2 linked regions of the Homo sapiens genome follow. The gene in region 1 interacts genetically with each later gene. Each region holds a gene or a part of one and is shown in the gene's direction. Other genes may lie near its edges. The genes, in order: CHD8 and GBF1.

What was found.
Region 2: changes in CHD8 (region 1) and GBF1 together harm fitness more than expected from each alone (negative genetic interaction), as found in Homo sapiens cells (one study listed by BioGRID).

What each region holds. Positions count from the first base shown.
Region 1 is NC_000014.9:21,400,624-21,404,446, reverse strand, and holds part of CHD8 (chromodomain-helicase-DNA-binding protein 8), read left to right. Parts: intron 1-783; coding exon 784-994; intron 995-1,234; coding exon 1,235-1,430; intron 1,431-1,943; coding exon 1,944-2,111; intron 2,112-2,310; coding exon 2,311-2,490; intron 2,491-2,933; coding exon 2,934-3,044; intron 3,045-3,375; coding exon 3,376-3,572; intron 3,573-3,823. UniProt on the Homo sapiens protein: ATP-dependent chromatin-remodeling factor, it slides nucleosomes along DNA; nucleosome sliding requires ATP. Acts as a transcription repressor by remodeling chromatin structure and recruiting histone H1 to target genes.
Region 2 is NC_000010.11:102,370,709-102,374,531, forward strand, and holds part of GBF1 (Golgi-specific brefeldin A-resistance guanine nucleotide exchange factor 1), read left to right. Parts: coding exon 1-152; intron 153-3,823. UniProt on the Homo sapiens protein: Guanine-nucleotide exchange factor (GEF) for members of the Arf family of small GTPases involved in trafficking in the early secretory pathway; its GEF activity initiates the coating of nascent vesicles via the localized generation of activated ARFs through replacement of GDP with GTP.

The sequences.
Region 1 (3,823 bases):
TATGACACATCTGAGGATGATTTAAGTTTTTTTTTTTTTTTTTTTTTTAAGATGGAGTTTCACTATTGTCGCCCAGGCTGGAGTACAGTGGTGCAATCTCGGCTCACTGCAACTCTGCCTCCCAGGTTCAAGCAATTCTCCTGCCTCAGCCTCCCAAGTAGCTGGGATTACAGGCGCCTGCTACCACACCCAGCTAATTTTTTGTATTTTTAGTAGAGACAGGGTTTCGCCACATGGGGCAGGCTGGTCTCGAACTTCTGACCTCAGGTGATCTGCCCGCTTCGGTCTCCCAAAGTGCTGGGATTACAGGCGTGAACCACTGAACCCGGCTGATTTTTTTTTTTTTTTAAGGTGGAGTCTCGCTCTGTCACCCAGGCTGGAGTGCAGTGGCGCAATCTCAGCTCACTGCAACCACCACCTCCCGAATTCAAGCGATTCTCCTGCCTCAGCCTCCTGAGTAGCTGGAACTACAGGCCTCCGCCACCACACCTGGCTAATTTTTGTATTGTTAGTAGAGACGGGGTTTCACCATGTTGGCCAGACTGGTCTCGAACTCCTGACCTCAAGTGATCCACCTGCCTCGGCCTCCCAAAGTGTTGGGATTACAGGCATGAGCCACCGTACCCAGCCGATTTAAGACTTTTTTGTGCTGAAATTCTGTGTGTGAGAAATGTTGGTCTTAAGTCAAATTACATTTTTTTCCTTTTGCTTTCTTAGTTAAATAGACTACAACCTTAATATGGTTCACTGGATCTCAACATAATTTGATTTTTCTTTTGGCAGGTGCTGAAGAAAAAATCCTAACAGAATTCCGTGAAGCTTGCCATATTATACCTCATGACTTTCACCTGCAGGCCATGGTTCGTTCAGCCGGCAAACTGGTTCTTATTGACAAGTTGCTTCCAAAGCTTAAAGCTGGTGGCCATAAAGTTCTGATCTTCTCTCAGATGGTGCGCTGCCTAGACATCCTAGAGGATTATTTAATCCAGAGGAGGTAAGAAAAGAGTCATCCTAGCCTGTGGTTACTCTGTCCTCATAAAGCAGCAAAAAGTAGGAGGGCCTGGATTTAATTAGAGTTCACCAATTGCAATAAGAGAAGTTTTTAAGATTCTCACTCTCAACTTGGGTTTTTGACCAGCTTTGATATGGGAGTACTGGTATTGATCCTAGCCTGCTGTTTTGGTCTCCACTTCTGCTTAGCCACTTACATTTTTTTTCTGCGATTCCCATACAGGTACTTATATGAACGTATTGATGGGCGAGTTAGAGGCAACCTTCGACAGGCTGCCATTGACCGCTTCAGCAAGCCTGACTCAGACCGCTTTGTCTTCTTACTGTGTACCCGGGCTGGTGGACTTGGTATTAATCTTACAGCTGCTGATACCTGCATCATCTTTGATTCAGACTGGAATCCACAAAATGACCTGCAGGTAAAGGAATTCATTGTCTTAGGGACTAACTACCTAACTTGGGAGATTTTTCAACAAGAATAGGATCTTTTAGAAAGACCTTTCACAGAGTTTGGAATTGTTTCCTTAGTTAAGGGTGGCAGTTAGGTCAGGGAATCAGCAAACGTTTTCTGTAAACGACAAGACAGTAAATGTTTTAGGCTTTGTGAGCCATCGAGTCTTTGTTGCAACTGCTTATCTCCAAGTCCTGTAGCGCAAAAACAGCCATAGATAATATGTAAATGAGTGGGTGGTCCCACCTGTGTCCCCATTGAACTTTATTTTTAAAAACAGATGTCCACACAGACTTTAGTTTGCTGACCCCTGGTCTACATGATGGGGTGATAATTTCATCTTGAAATTGACTCTTGGTTTTGAGTTGATCTCATGGCTGCTCTATAGAGGTGAAAGAATCATAAATTGGTATTTTGTATCCTTTCCCTTGCTAATTTTATGATATCTTTCTCCTTTCCTTTCGTTTTTATTTTAAACCAGGCCCAGGCACGATGTCATCGAATTGGGCAGAGCAAAGCTGTGAAGGTGTACCGCCTCATCACTCGTAATTCCTACGAGAGAGAGATGTTTGATAAGGCCAGCCTCAAGTTGGGGTTGGATAAGGCTGTGCTTCAATCCATGAGTGGTCGGGATGGCAACATTACTGGAGTGAGTCCTCTTAGTTTATAGATAAGTTTGTAGTAGATCATTGTGATAGAGGGAAACAAAAGCTATTTGTACACAGGGATTTGACTACCTTGTTTGGATTCTCAATTATTATTTCTTAAAATATAATAGCTAAAATATTATGGCATGGTTAGATATTATTCTCTTGATAGTCTTTTCATCTTTCTATTGGTTTTTACAGATCCAACAGTTCTCTAAGAAGGAGATTGAAGATCTTTTAAGAAAAGGAGCATATGCAGCCATCATGGAGGAAGATGATGAAGGCTCCAAGTTTTGTGAAGAGGACATTGACCAGATCTTGTTAAGACGAACTACAACCATCACCATTGAATCTGAAGGAAAAGGTTCCACCTTTGCTAAGGCATGTTCTGTCTATGCCAGAGGCTAGAAAAACACAGAGACCGGAATCTCTAGGATTTAATTATGTTTTTATGCTGGGGATGGTGGCTCATGCCTATATTCCCAGCACTTTGGGAGGCTGAGGCGGGCAGATCACTTGAGGTCAGGAGTTCGAGACCCAGCCTGCCCAACATGGTGAAACCTCATCTCTACCAAAAATACAAAAATTAGCCAGGAATGGTGGCTTGCGCCTGTCGTCCCAGCTACTCGGGAGGCTGAGGCAGGAGAATCACTTGAACCCAGGGGGTGGAGGTTGCGGTGAGCGGAGATCGTGCCACTGTACCCCAGCCTGGGCAACAGAGCAAGACTGTGTCTCAAAAAAAAAATGTTTTTAAAACATAATTGCTGATTTTGCACCACTTAAAAAAAAAAGTCAGCTTTACCTCTGCATTTGTTTTTCTCTAGGCAAGCTTTGTTGCTTCTGAAAACAGGACAGATATTTCTTTGGATGACCCCAACTTTTGGCAAAAGTGGGCCAAAAAGGCTGACCTAGACATGGATCTGCTCAACAGCAAGGTGAGTTTCTTCTTTTAGGGAGGAAGTATCGCAGAAGACCACACTACTTTCGGGAGTCTTTACAGCTACTCTGATTATTTGATGCTAATTGTGATTTATGATGGTGTATTGTATACAAGGGCTGTTGTGGATACTTTCTACCTAGGAGGCCCCAGAAAAGTAGTTGCTTTCTGAATAATTTTGCTTTCTGTAGATTATTTTACATGTCATTTAAAAAAATCTCTGAGTATCTACACGTTACATCCAATGTTATTGTAATCCCTAATTGTCTTATTCTTTTCCCATGAGCAAATCAGGAAGAGAATTACTTCTCCTTCTGTTCTCTTCATAGAATAATTTGGTAATTGACACACCTAGAGTACGAAAACAAACGCGCCACTTTAGCACTCTGAAAGATGATGACCTGGTGGAATTCTCTGATTTGGAAAGTGAGGATGATGAGCGGCCACGCTCCCGCAGACATGACCGTCATCATGCCTATGGGCGCACTGACTGCTTTCGGGTGGAAAAGCATCTCCTGGTATATGGGTAAGACCCCAACTTACCATTAGAGGTAGTGCATAGTGCATCTCCATCCTGATAGATACTCTTGGTTTGCCTTTCAAATTGGGGGCTATGATCAAAGAAGGGATAATGTGAAAAAATATTTGCCTTGGAGGGAGTTTGTTCTGTTTATTCTGTTACCATGTTTTTTAAGATCTTTGTTTCACACCTTTTCAGAGACATGATTCTGAGGGACAGGGGACTGTCATTTCTCAGAAAAATGTTAATATAGTTTT
Region 2 (3,823 bases), on another chromosome or scaffold:
ATCGTGTGGGCTGTGTGTGGCAGACTGTTCGAGACCATCTATACCACCTCTGTGTTCAGGCACAAGATTTCTGCTTCCTTGTGGAGCGGGCAGTGGTGGGGTTGCTACGCCTGGCCATTCGGCTTCTCCGGAGAGAAGAGATCAGTGCTCAGGTAAGCAGAATGCATCTTGGAGAGTGGGCAGGTATGCAAGGGATTAAGGCCACAGTTGTCAATTATGAATATGGCCTGAGACAGAGAGTACATTTAGTGCCCCATAGCATGAGTCCAGTGACCAACCACAGGGCTGGTGCAGTCTAGCGGGTGGTACTGGGAGTGAGCCTGGAATGGCCTCAGGCATGGAGCTTGTGTTTGGCACCTCAGCCTCCTATGAATCTGCTTTGTAGGACTGGCCTGCTACTGCCTTATAATAGTCTCAGCCCTATACCTGGTTTCCTGTCATGCTTATGACCCTCTTGAGATCTCTTTGCTTAACTACAAAAAACAACAAGCATAGAACTAATAAGTGGATTCAACAAGGTCACAGGATGTGAGATCAATACACAAAAAGTAATTATATCTCTACATGCTAACAATGAACAATATGGAAACTGAAATTTAAAATACAATACCATTTACAAGGGTTCCAAATAAAGTGAAATACTTAATATATAGCTGACAAAACATGTATAAGATTTGTATGATGAAAACTACAAAACTACAAAATAAATTGAAGAAGATGTAAATAAATGAAGAGGCATACTATGTTCATGGATTGGAAGGCTCAACATAGTAACTTTGTCACTTCTCCCCAAATTGATCTGTAAATTCAACATAACTCCTATAAAAATCCCAGAAAGGTTCTTGTAGACATAGGTAAGCTTATTCTAAAATTTAGATGGAAAGGCACAAGCTCTAGAATAGCTAGAAAGAATAAAGTGGAAAGAATCACTCTCTCTGGGCCGGTTGCTGTGGTTCATGCCTGTAATCTCAGCACTGCGGGAGGCCACAGCGGGCAGATCACTTGAGGTCAGGAGTTCAAGGCCAGCCTGGCCAACATGGTGAAACCCCATCTCTACTAAAAACACAAAAATTAGCAGGGTGTGGTGGCACACACCTGTAATCCTAGCTACTTGGGAGGCTGAGGCAGGAGAATCGCTTGAACTCAAGGCGGAGGTTGCAGTGAGCTGAGATCGCGCCACTGCACTCCAGCTGGGTGACAGAGTGAGATTCTGTCTCAAAAAAAAAAAAAAAGAATCACTCTGGTATTAAGACTTACTGTCCACTTTGGGGGGCTGAGGCGGGTGGATCACGAGGTCAGGAGATCAAGACCAGCCTGACTAACGTGGTGAAACCCCGTCTCTACTAAAAATAGAAAAATTAGCTGGGCGTGATGGTGAGCGCCTGATTGCTACTCGGGAGGCTGAGGCAGGAGAATCGCTTGAACCTGGGAGGCGGAGGTTGCAGTGAGCCAAGATTGCGCCACTGCACTCCAGCCTGGGCAACACAGCGAGACTCCATCTCAAAAAAAAAAAAAGACTTACTCTCGGCTGGACACAGTGGCTCACGTCTGTAATCCCAACACTTTGTGAGGCCAAGGCAGGCAATCACCTGAGGTTGGGAGTTCGAGACCAGCCTGACCAACATGGAGAAACCTCGTCTCTACTAAAAATACAGAATTAGCCAGGCATGGTGGGGCATGCCTGTAATCCCAGCTACTCAGGAGGCTGAGGCAGGAGAATCACTTGAACCTGGGAGGCAGAGGTTGTAGTAAGCCAAGATCACACCATTGCACTCCAGCCTGGACAGCGAAACTCTGTCTCAAAAAAAAGACTTACTGTATAGCTATAGTAGTCAAGATTATGTGGTGTCGATGGAGGGACAGACACGTAGATCAATGGAAAAGAATAGAGAGACCAGAAATAAGCTCAACACAAATATGTTCAGTGGATTTTTTGACCAAGATGTAAGAACAATTCAGTGGAGGAGGAATAGCCTTTTCAATAAGTGGTGGAGTGATTAAAATCCATAGGAGGAAAAACCAAATGAACCTTGACCTAAACCTCATACCTTACAGGAAAATTAACTCCAATGGATCATAGATTTAAATGTAAAGCTATAAAAACTTTAGAAACAGGAGAAAATCTTCAGGATCTAGAGCTAAGCAAAGAATTTTTAGCATGTTTGGCAGTCCTGTGGATCTGTCTCTTGCCTCAACACTGTCTGGATGGAACAGATCCGGGGGAGACTCTCTTTCAAAAAAAGTAATAATTTTTAGACTTGACATTAAAAGCACAATCTAGAAAAGGAAAAATTGATAAGTTGGGCTACATTAATATTTTTAAAAGTTTTGTTCTATGAGAGCCTATGTGAAGAGGATGAAAAGACAAGCTGTAGACGAGGAGGAAATATTTGCAAATCACATATTTGAAGAAAGGTATCTGTAATATAAAAACTCTCAAAACACAACAGTGATAAAACAATCCAATTATTAATAGAAAATGGACAAAACATAGGAACAGATGTTTCACCAAAGAACACATACAGATGGCAGATAGGCACATGAAATGAAGATAGCATCATTAACCATCAGAGTACTGCAAACTAAAACCACAATGAGGCTCACACCTGTAAGCCCAGCACTTTGGGAGGCTGAGGTGGGTGGATCACCTGAGGTCAGGAGTTTGAGCCCAGCCTGGCCAACATGGTGAAACCATGTCTCTACCAATAAATACAAAAATTAGCTGGGCGTGGTCACACACACCTGTAGTCTCACCTACTGAGGAGATTGAGGTGGGAGGATCGCTTGAACGCAGGAGGTTGCAGTGAGCTGAGATCGTGCCACTGCACTCCTGCCTGGGTGACAGAGCAAGACTCCAAAAAATAAAAACACAATGAGACATCACTACCCACTTTTCAGAATGGCTGAAATAAAAAGTAGTGACAATACCAAATGCTGAAAGGACGTGGAGAAACTGGGTCATTCATATATTGCTGGGTGGGAATGTAAAATGGTACAGCTACTCTGCTGGCAGTTTCTTATAAAATGAAACATATAATTACCATACAACCCAGCAATTGCACCCTTGGACATTTATCCCAGAAAAGTGAAAGCTTACTTTCTCATAAAAACCTGTACATGAATGTTTATAGAAGCCTTAGTTGTAATAGCCAAAAACTGGAATCGGCCCAGATGACTTTCAATAGGTGAATAAACTGTGGTACATACACACCATGGAATACTATTCAGCAATTTAAAGCAACAGACATCTCCAGGGAACTATGCTGAGTGAAAGAAAAGCCAATCTAAAAAGGTTATGTAATATATAATTCCACTTATATAACATTTTTGAAATGACAGAACTTTAGAATTTGAAGACAGGCTGGGCGCAGTGGCTCACACCTGTAATCCCAGCACTTTGGGAAACTGAGGCTGGTGAATCACTTGAGGTCAGGAGTTCGAGACCAGCCTGGCCAACATGGTGAAACCCCATCTCTACTAAAAATACAAAAATTAGCCAGGCGTGGTGGCTCGCACCTGTAATCCCATCTACTTGGGAGGCTGAGGCAGGAGAATCACTTGAACATGGGAAGCAGAGGTTGCAGTGAGCTGAGATCCTGCCTGCACTCTAGCCTGGGCAACAGAGTAAGACTCCATCTCAAAAAAAAAAAGAATTTGAAGACAGATTGCTAAGGATTAGGGATGGGGGCAGGAAGGAGGAGGTGGGTGTGGTTATAAAAGGGCAACATGAGCTGGGCATGGTGGTGCATGCCTGTAGTTCCAGCTACTCTGGAGGCTGAGACAGGAGGATCACTTGCGCCCAGGAGTTTGAGGCTGCTGTGAG